Linked DNA regions of Homo sapiens. The protein of the gene in region 2 purifies or fractionates together with the protein of the main gene of each other region. This does not show direct contact. Each region holds a gene or a part of one and is shown on either strand. Other genes may lie near its edges.

Region 1 (4,228 bases), on a different chromosome or scaffold from region 2:
GAGCCTGGCTTTGTGCCTCTCACGTGGGTGCAGACTGGAACCGCATCCCAACTCTGCCCCCAGAAGCTCCCTGTTTTGAGGGGTGGATGGGCTGAGGTGCTCCCCAACAATTACAGAGGGGGCCAGGCATACCACAGGGGCATCCTCACTTGCTTCTGCCCCTCAGCCCTGACCTCCCTATCAGACTGCACACCTGTCACTCAGCCTATGGCCAGTTAACGAGATGCAGAACCAAAGGATGGACTCAGCCTCCCCTCCCTCTTCCTAGGAGCAGGTAGTTCCTTGGCCAAGGGTATAGGGGCCTCAGAGATGGTTCCTGGGGCCCCAGATGAGGGTCCGCAGCAGCAGAGGCCCAGAAAGTGACCAGGGCCCCCGCCAGGCATGCTTCAGCCCAGCCAAGCTCCTCACTGCGGGTTGGGAAAGCGCCTTCATTTCTGAATCCTTCATCTGCAGGGGTTGTGAACAAGTATCAGATCAATGGCCTGCAAGCCTGGCTCCTCACGCACCTGCTCTGGTTTGCAAACGCTCATCTCCTGTCCTGGTTCTCGCCCACCATCATCTTCGACAACTGGATCCCACTGCTGTGGTGCGCCAACATCCTTGGCTATGCCGTCTCCACCTTCGCCATGGTCAAGGGCTACTTCTTCCCCACCAGCGCCAGAGACTGGTATGTTCTTAGCAGCGGGTCCAGCCTGATGTAGAAAGTGCAAACTTCACCCCTGGCCTTTCTTGCTGCCTGGGGCAGGTGGTTGTAAAGCCCTGAGCACTGAGAATCCGTGGAAGAGGAGGAGGGGGATGGAACTTGCTTCACCCTGGGGAACATCCTTTCTGAATGTTTGGTGGCTTCTCCAGCCTTGGCAAGAATGCAGCTGAAGATGGCCAGGTCAGCTGTGGTGGCCAAGTCATTGCCTTTAGGGCTGGCGTGGGGGTAAGGAAGCCAGGAAAAACTTCTGGCTTGGGGCACAGGCAGCCCATTGCCTCTTTCTTTGGATAAGCTGGTGAGGCCCAAAACAACCTTAGTGAAGAGTCTTATTGTCCCTGTGGCTTTAATTAACAGCTTCCCAGGAGAGCCCTGCTGGCTTGTACCCATTCCCATGGCTGGACAGTGGTGAGCCACTCATCTCTGTCCACTCATCCATTCACCTGCCCATCTCCCCACCCACCCATCCACCCCCCTACCCATTCATCTACCTACTCACCCATCATCCACCTACCCATTGCCCCATCCCATTCACCCACCCACCAATGCATCATCCATCCACCTATCCATCACCCACATCCACCCACCCATCATCCATCCATCTACCCTCCCATCACCCATTCATCCATCTGCCCATCCACCTACCCACCCACCTACACATCTAGCCACACACCCATCCACCTGCCCATCTCCCCATCCTTCCACCTACCCACCCACCCATCCATCATCCATCTCATCCACCTGCCCATCCACCCTCCACCCCGTCTGTCTACCCACCCGTCATCTATTTGTCCATCCACCTATCCACCTACCCACCCACCTACACATCTAGCCACCCACCCATCCACCTGCCCGTCATCCATCCATTTACCCATCCATCCACTCTATCAGGGCCTGTAATGGCATGTGCCGAGGGGAAGGAATGCATCATCTCATCCAGGTCAACCTCCTGCCTGAGCAATGTCCGCAGCTCCTGACCGGCCTCCCTTACCCTCTCAGGCCCTCCTAGCCTGCTCCCTCTGGCTTCCTGGGTGACACTTCTGAACACACCTGATCCCTGCCACCCTGCACCCCAGCTCAACCCTGCCTATCATATATCCATCCACCTGCTCCTCTCCCCATCCCATTCATCCATCCTTCCACCCACTCACCCTGTTATCTATCCATCCATCCATCATAAACCAATGTTTGGGGGGTTCTCTTGTGGACAGTTGTAGGCAGTGGGACTTACAGTTCAGTTTGGGGGATCCAAAAAACCCCAGTGTGGTTTACACCTAGGCTCTTGGGAAATGTTTCTGGAGGATGACACTTTGTAGCTTGTGTGTTATCAGATAACGAGGCTGGCCTTCAATGGCTCCTGGAAATCATCCTCGCTACCTTATAATCATGTAGACTTTGTGTGTTTTGCTTCTTTCTACTTACCCTACCTGAGGGAACTGGACATGAAAATAGGATTTTCTAGTTAACACAGAAATTGTTGTGTGTCCTCAGCCAGCTAGACCTAGTCAGGGTCTCCACAGGGGTTATCTCGGCTGATGCTCTGGCCCTCCGGGGATTGGGGGATTCAGGTAACTGGTCAAAGAACTTGTCCTGCACATGCTGGAAGCCGGGCCCAGGGTGCGTTTGTCATTCTCTACGTTGGCGTGATTTATAATGTCACTCACCCATGAGGGCCCACGTGCCCTGCGTCGGCTTCAAACCGTGTGCTTGGGCCCCAGAACGTAATCTCAGTGCAATCAAGCCAGTTCTTCAGCTCACCTGTGCCATGCGTCAAGGGCATCTGGAGAAGGGTAGAGAGAAACCCAGGTACCAGCCCAGGGCCGGTCTCCCACCCTTCCCGGGTGCAGAGCAGGTGCCCCTGGGCTTCTGCCTAAGGAAGTCTCTGCTGAGCAGCAGCTGAATGCAAAGCAAAGTGAATGAGGGCGCCAGGAACCAGCCGACAAGCATTCCAGCCGTGGGGGTCCCAGCGGCTCATGGCCAGCTTCTGCCTGCGCCGTCTCACGTTACCCTTTAGGACCCTGGGCCAGTGCTGGGCTCTCGCTAAGTAAGGTGGCTTCATCTTGTGAGATATGCTCATCCACTAAATGTATCTTTTATTTATATTTTTAAGCAAATTCACAGGCAATTTCTTTTACAACTACATGATGGGCATCGAGTTTAACCCTCGGATCGGGAAGTGGTTTGACTTCAAGCTGTTCTTCAATGGGCGCCCCGGGATCGTCGCCTGGACCCTCATCAACCTGTCCTTCGCAGCGAAGCAGCGGGAGCTCCACAGCCATGTGACCAATGCCATGGTCCTGGTCAACGTCCTGCAGGTGCCTGTCATGGCTGGAGAGGGTGAAACGCCGATGCCGGCAGGCTCTGGGGGAACCCGCAAGCCAGAGCGTATTCCCATGACCTTAATCTACTGCTTGTAAAAGAGAGTCAGCTGCCCTCCCCAGGTGTCACCAGGAAGCAGCCGGCGAGCACTTGGTGAAGGAAGCCATCCTTGGGTGCCTGTCTCTGCCAGCCCTGGGAGGGGAGGAGGCAGGTTCTACGCAGCCAGGCGTGGTCCAGGAAGGTCTCCCTTGGGGATTACACCTGGGTAGAATCTGGGGGTGTGTGGGAGTTAACCTGGTAGAGTGGAGGCAAGAGTGCATGCTCCAGGAACCCCCTGTAGGGAGAGAGGGTGGCAAGTCTGGGACACTCAGAAACATCCCGCATCCTGACCAGAGAGCGTTCAGGAGCTCAGAGCCAGGTGAGGCTGGAGGCCTCATGGAAGTCTTCCTCTTTATCTTAAAAGCAGCAAGACCCAGAAAGTGTGTGCTGAGCTGGGGTGCAGGGTGGCAGCGATCAGGTGCATTCGGAAGCGTCACCCAGGGAGCCAGCGGGAGCTGGCTAGGAGAACCCGAGAGGGTGAGGGAGGCCTGTCAGGAGCTGTGGACGTTGCTCGGGCAGGAGGTTGACCTGGATGGGATGAATGTATCCCTTCCCCTTGGCACGCGCCATTGCAAGCCCTGAGAACCTGGGCTGGGAGAGATGCCAGGGCCATGGGCTCGGGGTGGTTCTGAGGACAAGGAAGCCCTTAGCCCTGCCCATGACCCAGGCAGGAACAGCCCCAGCCGCAGGGAAGGAACAGCCCCAGCATTGAGGAAGTTGCTGAGCAGCTCCCGAGCACCCCCTGCTGCATCTGCGTGGAGTGTGATTTCCCCGAGGTCCATGGGGGCCCCAGGAGGGCCGGGGGTGGTCAGCGGCTGCTTCTGTCTTGCAGGCCATCTACGTGATTGACTTCTTCTGGAACGAAACCTGGTACCTGAAGACCATTGACATCTGCCATGACCACTTCGGGTGGTACCTGGGCTGGGGCGACTGTGTCTGGCTGCCTTATCTTTACACGCTGCAGGTGAGGAGGTGGGCAGAGCTGGCCCAGCGGGGCATTTGGCAGACACATGCTAAGCTTTCTCCTTGCAGAAGCGTCTGTCCTTGGGGGCACCAAAGCTGCCCCCTGTTTCTAGGAAGAAGGGAAGGCCTCGTGTATTAGCCAGCTCA
Region 2 (5,487 bases):
CCACCCCAATCAACACTACACCTTGGAATTCACACAGTCCAGCCTGGTTGAGGCTTCCAGGCTGAGCTGGCTTTTTCTCCCAAGGCAGAAAGGGCATTGGCTCTAGCTTACAGTCCGAGCAGCCACCCTCTCCTGCTTCATGACTTTGGGTGGACGGGAGTTCTGTCTTCCTACTCCTTGCTCCACAGGGGCTATGGTCCTGCCAGGACAGGTGAAAGGTGATGTCAACTGGCATCTGGCATTCAGCTGGTCTCTGGAGGTGGGTGGAGGGAACAGGGTGTCCGTGGGAGAGACCCTGGCCTGCCGTGGGAATCATGCAGAGATCTCAAGTTATGATTTTCTCTGGCGCAGGGGCTCTTTGGCACACAGAAGATGGGGTAAGTCTCTTCAATGCCAAACATGTGGAGGAAGAACATGTGTGAGCATGGTTTACTTTCTCTCCTAAATATGTATTCAAATAAGTACTTTCTGGTTTATGGAGGGTGAGTTCTAACCAGAAATGAGAAGTAAGTAGCACTGTCAGTCATTGTTAACCTCTTGGCTAGCTCTGAGTAGATTGAGAAAGGGGTGGGAGAAGCATCCTCCAACAACCGAGCACTTCCTGTACATTGACCAGGTAGGTAGGCACGTTGATCACAAACACCTTGAGGGACAGCTTCCAAGTATATGCATTCACAGATGAGAAGCATGCTTCAGACAACACAAAATTCATTTTTAACCCGGCTTTCTTTTGGCAGTAAATTTCTCTTCCTAATCATATTTTGCATAAACTAATATTAGAGTGGATTTGCATTTTCAGAGCACAAGATGGAGGAGTGGTGGAGGCGGTTCAGGTGGGTGGCAGGCTGGTCTGGGCTTTAAAAATTGTCCAGAGGTAACTGAGGAGATGAATCAAACCAGACTGAGCTGACTACTTAACACTAGCAGTCAAGATCATCCTGGCTGGGCATGGTGGCTCACGCCTGTAATCCTAGTACTTTGGGAGGCCAAGGCAGGCAGATCACCCGAGGTCAGGAGTTCGAGACCAGCCTGGCCAAGGTGGTGAAACCCCGTCTCTACCAAAAATACATAAATTAGCTGGGAATAGTGGCGTGCACTTGTAGTCCCAGCTACTCGGGAGGCTGAGGCAGAACTGCTTGAACCCAAGAGGCGGAGGTTGCAGTGAACCAAGATTGCACCACTGCACTCCAGCCTGGGCAACAGAGGGAGACTCAAAAAAAAAAAAAAAAAAAAAAGATTATCCTGATAAAACCAGCCTTGAATATGGAAAGTGTCTTCTAGGGACCCCTCAGGTTATAGATGTTATACCTTAGAATCTCTCTATTTTACAGAGGGGTAAATTGAGGCAGAAAACCCAAAGAAGGCTTAGGGACGATTTTCGAGGCTACTCACTTCATGGTGTTTCTTTCAGAGATTAGCAGCTATTACTGAACTCCAGGAGGCAACAGGAGGGGGATGGGATGGAGGTGGGGACCCGCTGAAGAAGGCCTAGGTGGGAGACAGGTAACGTGGTACAGGTACCCACCCCACAACTCATTAAGGGCCATGGAGGGAGGAAGGCTCTCAAGTGCCACGAAAATTCCCAAAGCAGCAGAGGGCTTGTATGGAAACGCCGGTTATTCGTCCCTACCCGGCCCCCGCCCCCCGCCCCCCCGACTGCCCCTGCCGTCGCCTCCCCGTGGGCAAGTGGTGGGGGCCTGGGCTTACAACCACACGTTCTCCTCCAACTAGCATCCCTTCCAGGGTGCACTAGGATGCCTCTCAGAGGTTCTCCCCCGCCTCCCGAAGGAAAGGGGAAAACCCCGTGGGCGTCCGGAGAGCCTTTGCGCCTCGCCAGGTGGAGGGACCGGCGCCACCCAGACCCGCGAGCCGAGACCCTCCCCGCGGCGTCGCTGCGGGAGGGGCGGAAGAGCGCGGGCGGTGGGCGGGAGCGGTGCTGCGAGGCGGGATCTGCGGGGCGTCCAATCCCCTTCTTCCCCCGCCCGCCCCCTCCCCGCCCCCCGAACGCTTTCCACCAACTGCGCGCGGCAGTGGGCGGGGCCCGTCACGGCTGTCGTCTTGGGTGCGATTTTTTTCTCCTCCTTTTTTTACCCTCCCGTTTTTTTCTTTTCTTTTTTTTTTCCCTATCCTTTTTTTGTGAATGAAAAAAGGAGGTCGCGAGCGGTACCTGGGACTGCAGCGCCAGGCGTCTTCGCGGCAGCGCCTTCGCCGCGGGCCCGGGCGCGTAGCGGCGGCGGCCTCGCCCCTCTCCCGGCGCCCCTGCGCGCCGCCCGCTGCCTCCGCAGCCCGGCTCCGCGCGCCGCCGTGACATTGGGCGCCTGGCGCGCGGGGCGATGCTGATCCGGAAGGGGCAGCGGCTGCAGTGCAGCGCGCGCGTCCGCTCCTGGGCCCACGTCCGGCCTGGGCTGCCCTGCCGGAGTTTCTGAGTGGCCGCGAGCTGGCCGGGAGGCTGGAGCCCAGCAGCAGCGCGGCGGCGCCGGCGTCGTCCCAACTTGCAGGCGCGGAGGGACCCCTGACATTTCACTAAAATGAGCGTGCTCAGCAGGAAGAGATGTGTTCCTCACGCTAGAAGCCACCCCGTCACATGTAGTGGTGTAAGTAGATGGCTGCTTGCGGTTATGGCGGGGTGGCCAGCAGCCCTTGCAGACGCGCCGCTCCGCCCTCCCTGCCCTGCCGCGCCCCTCGCTACGTTCCCCGGGCCCCGCTAGTCCCTGGGCTCTGGCTTCGGCTGCTGGGTACAGCGGGGCTGGAGCCTAATCCTTTCCGGTGTTTCTAGGGAAAGGAAGATGACTTGATTGCTTCGGCCTGTCGTGCCCCTCCCCCTTCTCGATGTTTAAAAATTTTTAAATTTCTATTTTGTGTGTGTGCAGAGTAGCGTGTCAGAAAAAAGGAAAAACGGTCCAGAGTGGTGGGAGTGATTCTGTTAAGAAAACAAACACAAAACAACAGTGGAATTGGGGTGTTTTGCTGGCGGTTCCGGAGCTGGTTCTTTGAACTCAACTCCATTGCAGTCTATGTAACTGAGTTCTGTGAAACTACTGGGGAGATCTTTGGCGGTGTTTGGTGATGTGTCCACATTTTAGGTTTGAGGGGGCTTATCTGTGTTTAGGCTTGCATTTCTTTAATCTGACCATTCAGGGTCCCTTTGGGCCTTGCTTTCTGTTGGATCTGCACGGGGCTTCTTGCAATGCCAGCGACCCCCGTGGGAGCCTCCCCGAATTAGGAGTCCACTCTCTCTTTGTTCTTCTCCTTCCAATTCTCCATTCAATCCATCTCCCTTGATTTTACCTTCATTTTCAGGATTTTCCTCCCATTCCCATTTTGTAAGATGATGTGGGATACTGGTTGCTAGGAGACAAGCCAGGCTCCCAGGGAGATTCTGTTGTTTCCTTGACAACCAGACTAGGGCAGCCACAGATGAACAAGCCTCCTATCAGCTGTGGGAGGGAAAGGGGCCCTTTCTGAGCTCTGCAAAGAGTGTGTGTAGGGGTGTGGGGGTGGGACTGGGAGAGCACGAGGTTTGTAGCTAATTTCAGCACACCTTGGGTTTTGGCTTGCACCAAGTACAAAGAGCTGGGAGAGCGGTGGGCAGGAGGCTGTTTTTGGAGGGGCACAGGGATCATGGGACAGGGATGGAAGGAACACATGCCAGTGACTTTGCGATTGTCATGGAAGAGGAGTGAGTTGGGGGTTGTGATGCCCAGGGCTGGGTGGTGAGGAGGTCATAGTTTATGGAGGTTGATTGAGTGGGGATGAGGCAATTGTGAGGGAGAGTCTGGAGTCAGGGAAGAAGAGAGAGCCGGAGGGAGAGGGGAAGCTGAGAGGCTCACTGAATGGGCTGTATCACCATATATCAGCAATGAGTGGGCTGTATCACCATACATCAGCAATGATACAACATCAGCAACATCCTAGGGCAAAAATTATATTACTCTTGGCACACTCTCTCCAGGACAGGATCCTCCTTTAAGACAGGCCTGATTAGACTAAGAGTTCTAACACTTGAATTGGGCCAGTCTGTATCTTAAAGACAGATATAATTACACATATAGATATGCAATCTAGCATTATATAATACCACATTACATAAGAAGACAAATACCTCCTTTCAGCCCAGCCTCTCTTGGCACAAATTAACCACGGTTCAGGAGACTCTTCCAATGTCTTCATACCCATTTCCCAGAGGGGGAGACTGATGCCCAGAAAATATAAGTGACTTGCCTCTTCCTAGATAGGACAGTGAAGTTTGCCAGTCAGGCAGTTGGGACAGGGTAGAAAGGGTGAGATGATACAAACAGAGAGGCAGCTGAAGGACAAGGGGACTGCTGAAGGGGCTGGGGAATGGATGGAAGGGGTTGCGCAACCCAGAAGGTCTGATGTCTAAACTCATGGCACAGTATTTGTCAATTTCCACTTGTTGATTGGCTGACCACTGCTTAACTCTAGAGGTGACATAGCACAGGTGGGCAGCAGTGTTTTCATCACAAAGTAGCTGAACTTGGCCCAGCACTGCTCTGCTGGTGTTCTGGCATTATTCTCACTGTCAAGGTGCTCCTGAATTTGAGAACTGGCATCCCTCCATTAGGCCTCCTCATTCCCCCGCTTCTGTCTACAGACCTACATGCTGGGAGAATCGGAACTTGAGAAAGAAGTTCTTTTGGCTCTTGGGTTTTAATCTTTATCCTCCAGCTGCACATATTTTGTATTTGGGATTATATCTGTTTTGGTATTCACTCGACAAAACAGAAACCACAGCCCAGATGCTGCCTCCTGGCGCCAGCACATTCCTCAACTTGAGATCAGGAACTGTCAAAGTGGGGTTCCCGGTCCTCAGTTCAGGAGAGAGAATTGGGAGGAGGAAGCCTGTGGTTAGAATAACAGTTCTTAACAGTTCTCTGGGCCAGGTGTGGTGGCTCACGCCTGTAATCCCAGCACTTTGGGAGGCCAAGGCGGGCAGATCACTTGAGGTCAGGAGTTTAAGACCAGCCTGACCAACATGGCGAAACCCCGTATCTACTAAAAATACAAAATTAGCCGGCATAGTGGCACACACCTGTAATCCCAGCTACCTGGGAGGCTGAGGCAGGAGAATCACTTGAACCCAGGAGGCAGAGGCTGCAGTGAGCCGAGATCATGCCACTGCACTCCAGCCTGGGTGTCAAGCGCAAAACTCCGTCTCAAAAAAATACAAAAACAAAAAACGGTTGTCTGCTGAGGGAGGGTTAGGAGAGAGAAGGGGTGGTACAGTTGCCCTGGAGACCATGAGGGCACTGCATGGAGACCTCGTTGAAGGGTCCAGATCCTGTAACATTCCAAAAAGGCGGAGGAGGTTGTCTCATTGAGAAGTCCTTGCTGCACTTTTTGCTTAGGTTGCTGAGATGCATCCACTCGCACGGATCCCAGTTGCTATCGTTACTTGGATATTTCGGTCTGCATCCCTGCATGCTGGCATCCAGTTACAGCCCAGCAGGAATGGAGCCTCCCTGT
Region 3 (4,228 bases), on a different chromosome or scaffold from region 2:
TGGCCAGGCTAGTCTCGAACTCCTGACCTCAGGTGATCTCTGCTGGGCTCCCAAAGTGCTGGGATTACAAGTGTGAGCCACGGTGCCTGGGCCTTGTTCCTCTTTTTTCCTGGTAATTTTCTTTGTTGAGACATCTGTCTTATTTGATATTACTGTTGTTACGGTAGCTTCTTTTGATTGGTTTTTGCATGGCGTATCTTTTCCTATCCATTGCTTTGAACTTTTAACCTACCTGTATCTTTATATTTGAAATTAGTTTCCTGGTTCATTATTTTTATTCACTCTGCTAATCTCTGTCTTGTAGTAGTGTTTTAGGCCATTTACATTTAATCTAATTGTTAAATATTAGAACTTAAGTGTGCCATTTTATTGTTTTTTGATTGTTTCCTGTGTTTTTTCTTCTGTTTCCCTTTTCCTGCCTGCTGTGACTTACTCGAATATTTTTAGTATCTCATTTTGATTTATCTGTTATGTTTTGGTGTATATCTCCTTGTATGGTTTTCATAGTGGTGGCTATACAAATTACAATGTATTTATGTAATTCAACACAGTTTACTTGTACAGGTATTTTACTACTTCTAAGTGAAATATAGAAACTTTATCACCATTTAGGTCTCTATCCTCTCCCCTTTACAATTTAGTTGTCTTAAGTATTTCCTCTGCATACCTTGAGAACCGTATTAATATTATGATTTTTTTTAAATACCTAGCCTTTTCAGTAACTCAGGAGGAAACATATTTATCTGCATGTTTATCTGTTCTGTTATTTTTTCTTCATTCCACGATGCTCTAGGTTTCTTTCGTTTTTCCTTTATATTTGAAAAAATTTTTTCAGCAGTTGTCTTAGGGCAGGTCTGCTTGTGACAGATTCTCTTAGTTTTTCTCTACGGTTTTACAGTTTTCATCTGTCATCTCCATTTTGCTATTAAACTGCTCTTGTGATTTTTTGTTATTGTATTTTTCTTTGAAATTTCTATTTGTTTCTTCTTTATATCTCCTGTTTCTTTGCTAAGACTAGTTTTTCCTTTGTCTCAGGTGTTTGTAATTGCTCATTGAAGTATTTTTTATGACAGTCACTTTAAAATCCTTGTTAGACCTAAGTTCTGTGTTCTCTCTTGGTGGTATCTGTTGATTGACTGTGTTTTCTCATTCAAATTGCCATTTTTCTGGTTCTTGGTCATTTTTTATCATATTGTGGACATGCTGGGTATGATGTCATGAGACTCTGCTTCCTGTTTAAATCCCCTTACTTGAGAAGACTCCTCACTCGAGCCTGCTGGGTGCCACCTTGTTGCCGGGACAGTCATGGAGCTCCTGCCTCACCCACGGCCTCTGGCAGACCCTACTGGCTGGGAGAGTGAAGGGCACCACCTCGTTCTAGCCAGGCCGGGACAGCAGTCAGGATCCATTCTCACACCCCGGTGCTGGCTGCTGCGCAAGGCCAGGTGGACGAGGGGTGTGTGTGTGTGTGTGTGTATGTGTGTGTGTGTGTGCGCGCGAGTGGGGGTTTGCTTGCAGGAGGGCTGATGATGTGAAGAGAGTCTGTCCTGCAAGGCCCCTCCTGGTGCCAAGTGGACGAGGGGTGTGTGCGTGTGTGTATGTGTTGTTGTGTGTGTGGGTGGGGGTTTGCTTGCAGGAGGGCTGATGATGTGAACAGTGTGTGTGGTTGCAGGAGGGCTGATGATGTACAGAGAGTCTGTCCTGCCAGGCCCCTCCTGGTCCTTTGGCCATCGAGAGCAGGCTTACGGTTTTTGGTCTTTTTGTGTTTCTGGGCTGCCGACTTCTGTGGCACCCAGAGTGGGATGTGTAGTAAATAAGCATAAACAAAACCCCAGAGTCAAGCCAGGGACTCAGCGCTGGGTTCTCTCTCGAGTGCCGAGGCCCCTGGCTGGTTGGCTTCTGTTCCTTTCAGTCCCCCAATGCTTGTTCCGTATATTTTCCTCCAGGGCAGTGGGTCTAATATGCGGGAGGAGCAGGTTGAAATGTGTCCTCTCCATGTTGCCTGGAACTGGAAGAGCTCAAACCAAATTTTAAACTTAATCAGAACATATTCTGGTTGGGTGTGGTGGCTCATGCCTGTAGTCTTGGGAGGCCGAGGTGGATGGATCACCTGAGGTCAGGAGTTCGAGACCAGCCTGGCCAACATGGTCAGGAAACCACAAGACTGTCACGGAAACCCTTTTCTTTCAGTAACATGAGCCAAAGGTCACTGCACCTTGTCCCCTCCTGACCCTGTCCCGGTGGCAGGGTGTGGGGGACAATGAACTGCTTGTCTGTGTGCCTCCAAGTGGGGCAAAACCAGGCAGCATCCTGCTGTTTAGCTGCACCTGAGACGATGCCTGAGGGCTACCTGAGGAAACAGGGAAACGTGGGGTTTTAGCCGGATGTGGTGGCGTGTCCCTGTAATCCCAGCTACTCAGGAGACTGAGGCGGGAGAATCACTTGAACCTAGGAGGTGGAGGTTGCAGTGAGCCGAGATCGCACCACGGTACTCCAGCATGGGCAACAGAGTAAGACTCCATCTGAAAACAAAAACAAAAAAACCAAAACATATTCTAAAACATAAATGTTCCCAGGAAAGTATTGATGTATTCGGATCTAAACTGCCTTTTTGATTACGGAAACTTTCATCTTGTAATTAATGTTGATGTAGTGACTGCTTATGGGGTGCGTGGAGCTTGCACAGCCCGACCACAGTTGTAACAGGAGGACAGCAGACAGGTTACCCGACGAGTGGGTTTCAGATGGTGATGGCTGCAAGGGGTGACAGAATTGAGCAGCCAGAAGTGGAGGCGGGAGATGAAGTAGAGGGGTGTTCCTGGGGAGAGACGGTTTTGGAGGGAGAGGCAGTAAAGGTGGGAAGAAGCGTGTGGGCTTGGAGGTATTGTAGAGATAAACATAAGCCGAAACTTCAGGTACGTTCCTTGCTCGTCAGTGCTGATATTCCAACTCCAAAGGAGTTGCACTGAGTTCTAGGTGCCTCTTTCAGATTACGAGGATACATATCTCTCTGAGAAAAGCTGAAAATACAGAAATGTGTAAGAGGGAAAATAAAGGGATTTATTCCACAATAGGACACATGTGTTAAAGTTTGTCTTTCAATCTTTTTACATATACTGTTAGAGGAAGAAATGTTTTGAATGACCCTTGTCAGGCACAGTGAGGAAGGCTTTATTCAGAACCATTGAGGTGGGCCTGGGGCCACTGCGCTGGGATTTTGCAGTGGGGGAGAGAGATGGAGCTCAACTCCAAGTACAGCAGGGGCCGGGGGGAGTTTATAGCCTAGGGTCAGGGTGGGGGCAGTGGATGGAAAATGACTGAGAGGACACATGAGGAGTAAGGGGATTTGGGCTAAACCAACTGAACAGGATTATTGCGAAAGAGAGGCCAGGGTGAGCAGACACCACCTATGGGATCTGGGGATGAGGAACCTGAGCAGATACTGAGGGTGGGGGTTTTGGCCGCACTAAACTGGACTTTACAAGGAAGGGCACAGATGGCCGAGGAGAAGATTCAGGAGCCTGAGTAAAGTTGAATTAAACCAAGAATCTGTGTCAGTTTCTACTCCATATCCAACACCAAGAACTTGACCGTTATTATAATTGTTTTCAAAATAAAAGATTAAAATCTTACAATTTTTCTATTCTTAGCTGAGCTTCAGTCATTGTCTATTCCTGGAACTTACCAAGAGAAGATCACCCACCTGGGACATTCTCTGATGAGTTTAACAGGTCTGAAATCTTTGGATCTCTCGCGCAACTCCTTGGTTAGTCTGGAGGTAAGTTTTAGGTCTCTTTCTTAAAATTTATTGCTATCAACATCAGTGGAAAGTCCATTCACAGCAGAAACGGAGTCTGTTTTGTAACCCTCTGCTTACATCTGTATACGGTACACTTTGTGTTGCGTATTTTTGTGTTTACCGTGGGCTACATTTCATACACATCACGTTACGTTGTGTTGTCGCCCTCTGATGACGATGATTATATCTTTAAAGGAAATGAAATGAGACCCCAGAGACTTACTGAGTGGCAGTGCAGTGGGCCTGGGGCTGCCTCCTGGGCTCCTGGCAGGGTCACCCTGGAGAGAGATGCCTAGGTGGTGGTGAGGGGAGCTGTGCACAACTACCATGGCCTGATTGGCCCTGACAGAACCGTGGGATGCGCCTGCCCTGAGCCCGATGCCTGAGCATTATGGAGGCTGCGTCTGCATGGCCTGATTGGCCCGGACA
Region 4 (4,228 bases), on a different chromosome or scaffold from region 2:
ACTGCGAGGTAACTCTTTCCTGAGTCCTGCAATCCAGCCAGGCATGGTGGCTCACACCTATAATCCAAGCAATTTGAGAGACCAAGGCAAGAGGATCACTTGAGGCCAGGAGTTTAGGACTAGCCTGGGCAACATAGTGAGACACTGTCTCTACAAAAAAATTTGCTTTAAAAACCACACTTCTCATTATATTCTCTTTCTCCCTTCCCTAGGGTATAAAGACGCTGGCTGTGTGTCCCAACAACGATATGAAAGAGCTTGTTGGATGAAGTCTTCTTTAGAAGAAGGCATTTCTGTGTTGAAATCTATTGAGTTTTTGAGCTCTAAATGGAAAAAATTAATCCCAGAGGCTTCTATAAGTACTAGTAGAAGTCTGCCTGTCAGGTATGCATTTTTAATATAGACCTTTCTCACTTTTTATAGAAAAATAAGATCATAAGATCATTTCATAGAGACATTACCTATGTGTTCCTACCTACACATTTCAAATGAATGTAGCTTGTTTTTGGCTTCTTTTCAAAATCCGTTAGCTGTAACTCATCTTTTTTCTTTCTTTTTTTTTTTTTTTTTTTTTTGAGACAGTCTCGCTCTTTCACCCAGGCCAGACTGCAGTGGTGCGATCTCGGCTCACTGCAAGCTCCGCCTCCCGGGTTCGCGCCATTCTCCTGCCTCAGCCCCCCGAGTAGCTGGGACTACAGGCGCCTGCCACCGCGCCCGGCTAATTTTTTGTATTTTTTAGTAGAGATGGGGTTTCACTGTGTTAGCCAGGATGGTCTCGATCTCCTGATCTCGTGATCCGCCCGCCTCGGCCTCCCAAAGTGCTGGGATTACAGGCGTGAGCCACTGCACCCGGCCTAACTCATCTGTTTTCTAAGTATTAAAAAATATATGGCTGGATGCAGTGGCTCACACCTATAATCCCAGAATTTTGGGAGGCCAAGGCAGTCGGATCACTTGAGTTCAGGAGTTTGAGACCTGCCTGGCCAATGTGGCAAAATCCCATCTCTACTAAAAATACAAAAATTAGCCGGGCGTGGTAGTGCACACCTGTAATCCCAGCTACTTGGGAGGTTGAGGCAGGAGAATCACTTGAACCTAGGAGGCAGAGGTTGCAGTGAGCCAAGATCACGCCTCTGCACTCCAGCCTGGGTGAGAGTGAGACCCTGTCTCAAAGAAAAGAAAAAATCACATATATATATATATTCTAAATTATTATTTTTATTTTTTATATGATTTCTCTGTGGCTCCCATTGAGTTCTTTTGGCTTTCATAAGATTTAGAAGGCTCAAACCAAGAAAAGTTGTTATCTGCTTTCTTTTCTAGTCTTGGAGCAATGTGGAATGATCTGATCTTGTCCATGAGCTATAGCAAGGAAACTCCTTTGTTTTTAATTTTTTTGAGATGGAGTTTCACTCTCCTTGCTCAGGCTAGAGTGCAATGGTGCGATCTCGGCTCATCGCAACCTCCCAGCTTCTGGGTTCAAGTGATTCTCCTGCCTCAGCCTCCCAAGTAGTTGGGATTACAGGCGCCTGCCACCACACCTGGCTATTTTTTTTTTTTTTTTTTTTGAGATGGAGTCTCACTCTGTCAGGAGTGCAATGGCATGATCTCGGCTCACTGCAACCTCTGCCTCCCGGGTTCAAGCAATTCTCCTGCCTCAGCCTCCTGAGTAGCTAGGATTACAGGCATGCACCACCACACCCGGCTAATTTTTGTATTTTTAGTAGAGACAGGGTTTCACCATGTTGGCCAGGCTGTGCTCGAACTCTTGACCTTAAGTGATCCACCTGCCTTGGCCTCTCAAAGTGCTGGGATTACAGGGATGAGCCACCATGCCTGGCCCAAGTTTTTATTTTCATGAGGGTTTCCCAAAGCACTAGCACCAGCAATGAAACAGATTTTTAATAATAGTAACAGCAGGTTTTAAAGAATTTGCGTAATCATCTTTCATATCAGGGGATCTCATTCATAGAAATGACAGCCTTATTCACAAATAAGGATGGTGGATATCTTTGTCCATTCAGACTGCTATAACAAAACACCTTAGACTGGATAATTTATAAACAACAGTAATTTATTGCTGACAGTTTTGGAGACTGAAGTCCAAGATCAAGGCACCAGCAGATTAGGTGTCTGGTGAGGGCTTGCTGTTTGCTTCCAAGATGGTGCCTTCTTGCTGTGTTCTCACATAGCAAAAGGGCAAAAAGCTCCCCAACCCTCTTTTATTGGGGCACTAATCCCACTTATAAGCGCCAGAACCCTCATGCCCTAATCACCTCCTAAGGGCCCCACCTCTAAAAACTGTCATATTGAGCATTAGATTCCAACATAAGAATTTAAGTGGGGGATACTACCAACATTCAGACTATAGCAGTGGATATATTTGTTTACTAGCTAACTGGCTTACACTAGGCACCAGGAAATGGTTGTAGTGTAAGCAGTTTAAAATTGACTCATTTCTCCAGCTGTTTATTCATTTGTTTAAATTTAGGAGGGTTCACATTATTTCAAAAGTTGGACAAATAATTTATAACACAGGCCAGGCACAGTGGCTCATGCCTGTAATCCCATCGTTTTGGGAGGCTGAGGTGGGCAGATCACTTGAGGCCAGAAGTCAAGACCAGACATGGCAAAACCCTGTCTCTACTAAAAATACAAAAATTAGCCAGGCATGGTGGAGCACACCTGTAATCCCAGCTATTCAAGAGGCTGAGGGAGGAGAATCACTTGAACCTAGAAGGCAGAAGTTGCAGTGAGCCGAAATCACACCACTGCACTCCAGCCTGCGTGACACAGCAAGTCTCTGTATCAAAAAAAAAAAAAAAAAGAATTTATATAACACTATGCTTTCTTTTATAACAAATATCACACTAATTCGTGTAATAGGAACTTGCATTGAATGTGACTGATGTGTATTGATGAATATTGAGAGTGTGGGAAGTGATCGTTTTCAGCAGTCTCAGATGCTAACTGATGAATAAAAAGATGAACAAATGAACAATGAAAACTTATCAGCTATGTTTTTACCATAACAATCCCAGGAGTAGCCATTTTGTTTAGATGGATTTTTTTTAAAAAGGTCAGTTTAAAAAGGTAATTTGGCCAGATTCCTTTTTAATTCAGGCATATTTCCCTTCAGGAGGAATCAGTCTACATATTTGATTTGAGAATATTTGCAGTCTACCACTTAGCCTTTCTTTCTTTCTTTTTTTTTTTTTTTGAGACGGAGTCTCACTCTGTCACCTAGGCTGGAGTGCAATGGCACAATCTTGGCTCACTGCAACCTCCGCCTCCTGGGTTCAAGTGATTCTCCTGCCTCAGCCTTCTGAGTAGCTGGGCCTACAGGCGCTTGCCACCATGCCTGGCTAATTTTTGTTTGTATTTTTAGTAGAGACAGGGTTTCACCGTGTTAGCCAGGATGGTCTCAATCTCCTTACCTCAAGATCTGCCTGCCTTGGCCTCCCAAAGTGCTGGGATTACAGGCATGAGTCACTGTGCCTGGCCTTAGCCTTTTTTAGCGAACTCACTTGATCAATGCCCAGACATATAAAGCTAAAAAGATTTTAAAATCCGGTTAAAAATACACTTGCTGCATACATGCCAGACTATGTAGTAAGCGCTGACCAGTTGAACCTGACTCTGAACAGGCATTTAACAGAAGAGATACACAAATGCATGTACATGTGCACCTATGCGTAACACATACACACACACACACACACATTTTCTGTCAGGATTACAGAGAAATGTATTGATGTGTTAGGTAGCTCAGAAATTCCCTCCTGGCTTTGTTGAAGTATGCTAACTTATCCATTCTTTGCCAGAGCTCTGTACTCTGAGGCTTAGGCTTGATTCAAAGCAGTTCTTGAAGTTTGGAGTTGAGAATAGCTCAAAGCCTTGTGAACAGATTTTTTTAAAACTATCTCGAATTCTGGTGCTCAGGTGATTCTCCTACCTCTGCCTCCCAAAGTGCTGGGATTACAGACATAATCCCCCCAAAAAAGAACATAATTACCATCTTAACTATTTGTAAGTGTACATTTCAGTAGTTTAAGTATATTCATATGGTTGCAAAATAGATCTCCAGGACTTTTTCATCTTGCAAAACTCAAACACTATACCCATTAGACAGTAACTCCCCCTTTCTCTCCTTCCCCCAGCCCCTGGTAACCCCATTCTACTCTGTTTCTATGGATTTGACTAGAATCATACAGTATGTGGCCAGGCA

The links. The genes of interacting proteins can lie anywhere in the genome.
Region 1: the proteins of RHOBTB2 (region 2) and DHCR7 purify together in Homo sapiens (affinity purification with mass spectrometry, with the first as the bait; one large-scale study listed by BioGRID). This does not show direct contact.
Region 3: the proteins of RHOBTB2 (region 2) and CEP72 purify together in Homo sapiens (affinity purification with mass spectrometry, with the first as the bait; one large-scale study listed by BioGRID). This does not show direct contact.
Region 4: the proteins of RHOBTB2 (region 2) and MTO1 purify together in Homo sapiens (affinity purification with mass spectrometry, with the first as the bait; one large-scale study listed by BioGRID). This does not show direct contact.

Annotation. Positions count from the first base shown.
Region 1 is NC_000011.10:71,437,666-71,441,893, reverse strand, and holds part of DHCR7 (7-dehydrocholesterol reductase), read left to right. Parts: intron 1-453; coding exon 454-667; intron 668-1,057; coding exon of another isoform or gene 1,058-1,108; intron 1,109-2,810; coding exon 2,811-3,015; intron 3,016-3,950; coding exon 3,951-4,082; coding exon of another isoform or gene 4,083-4,090; intron 4,091-4,228. UniProt on the Homo sapiens protein: Oxidoreductase that catalyzes the last step of the cholesterol synthesis pathway, which transforms cholesta-5,7-dien-3beta-ol (7-dehydrocholesterol,7-DHC) into cholesterol by reducing the C7-C8 double bond of its sterol core.
Region 2 is NC_000008.11:22,997,512-23,002,998, forward strand, and holds the start of RHOBTB2 (rho-related BTB domain-containing protein 2), read left to right. Parts: upstream 1-2,036; 5' UTR 2,037-2,594; intron 2,595-5,487. UniProt on the Homo sapiens protein: Regulator of cell proliferation and apoptosis. It likely functions as a substrate-adapter that recruits key substrates, e.g. MSI2, to CUL3-based ubiquitin ligase complexes for degradation. Required for MSI2 ubiquitination and degradation.
Region 3 is NC_000005.10:615,340-619,567, forward strand, and holds part of CEP72 (centrosomal protein of 72 kDa), read left to right. Parts: intron 1-2,489; exon of another isoform or gene 2,490-2,510; intron 2,511-3,650; coding exon 3,651-3,778; intron 3,779-4,228. UniProt on the Homo sapiens protein: Involved in the recruitment of key centrosomal proteins to the centrosome.
Region 4 is NC_000006.12:73,482,237-73,486,464, forward strand, and holds part of MTO1 (5-taurinomethyluridine-[tRNA] synthase subunit MTO1, mitochondrial), read left to right. Parts: coding exon 1-8; intron 9-212; coding exon 213-384; intron 385-4,228. UniProt on the Homo sapiens protein: Component of the GTPBP3-MTO1 complex that catalyzes the 5-taurinomethyluridine (taum(5)U) modification at the 34th wobble position (U34) of mitochondrial tRNAs (mt-tRNAs), which plays a role in mt-tRNA decoding and mitochondrial translation.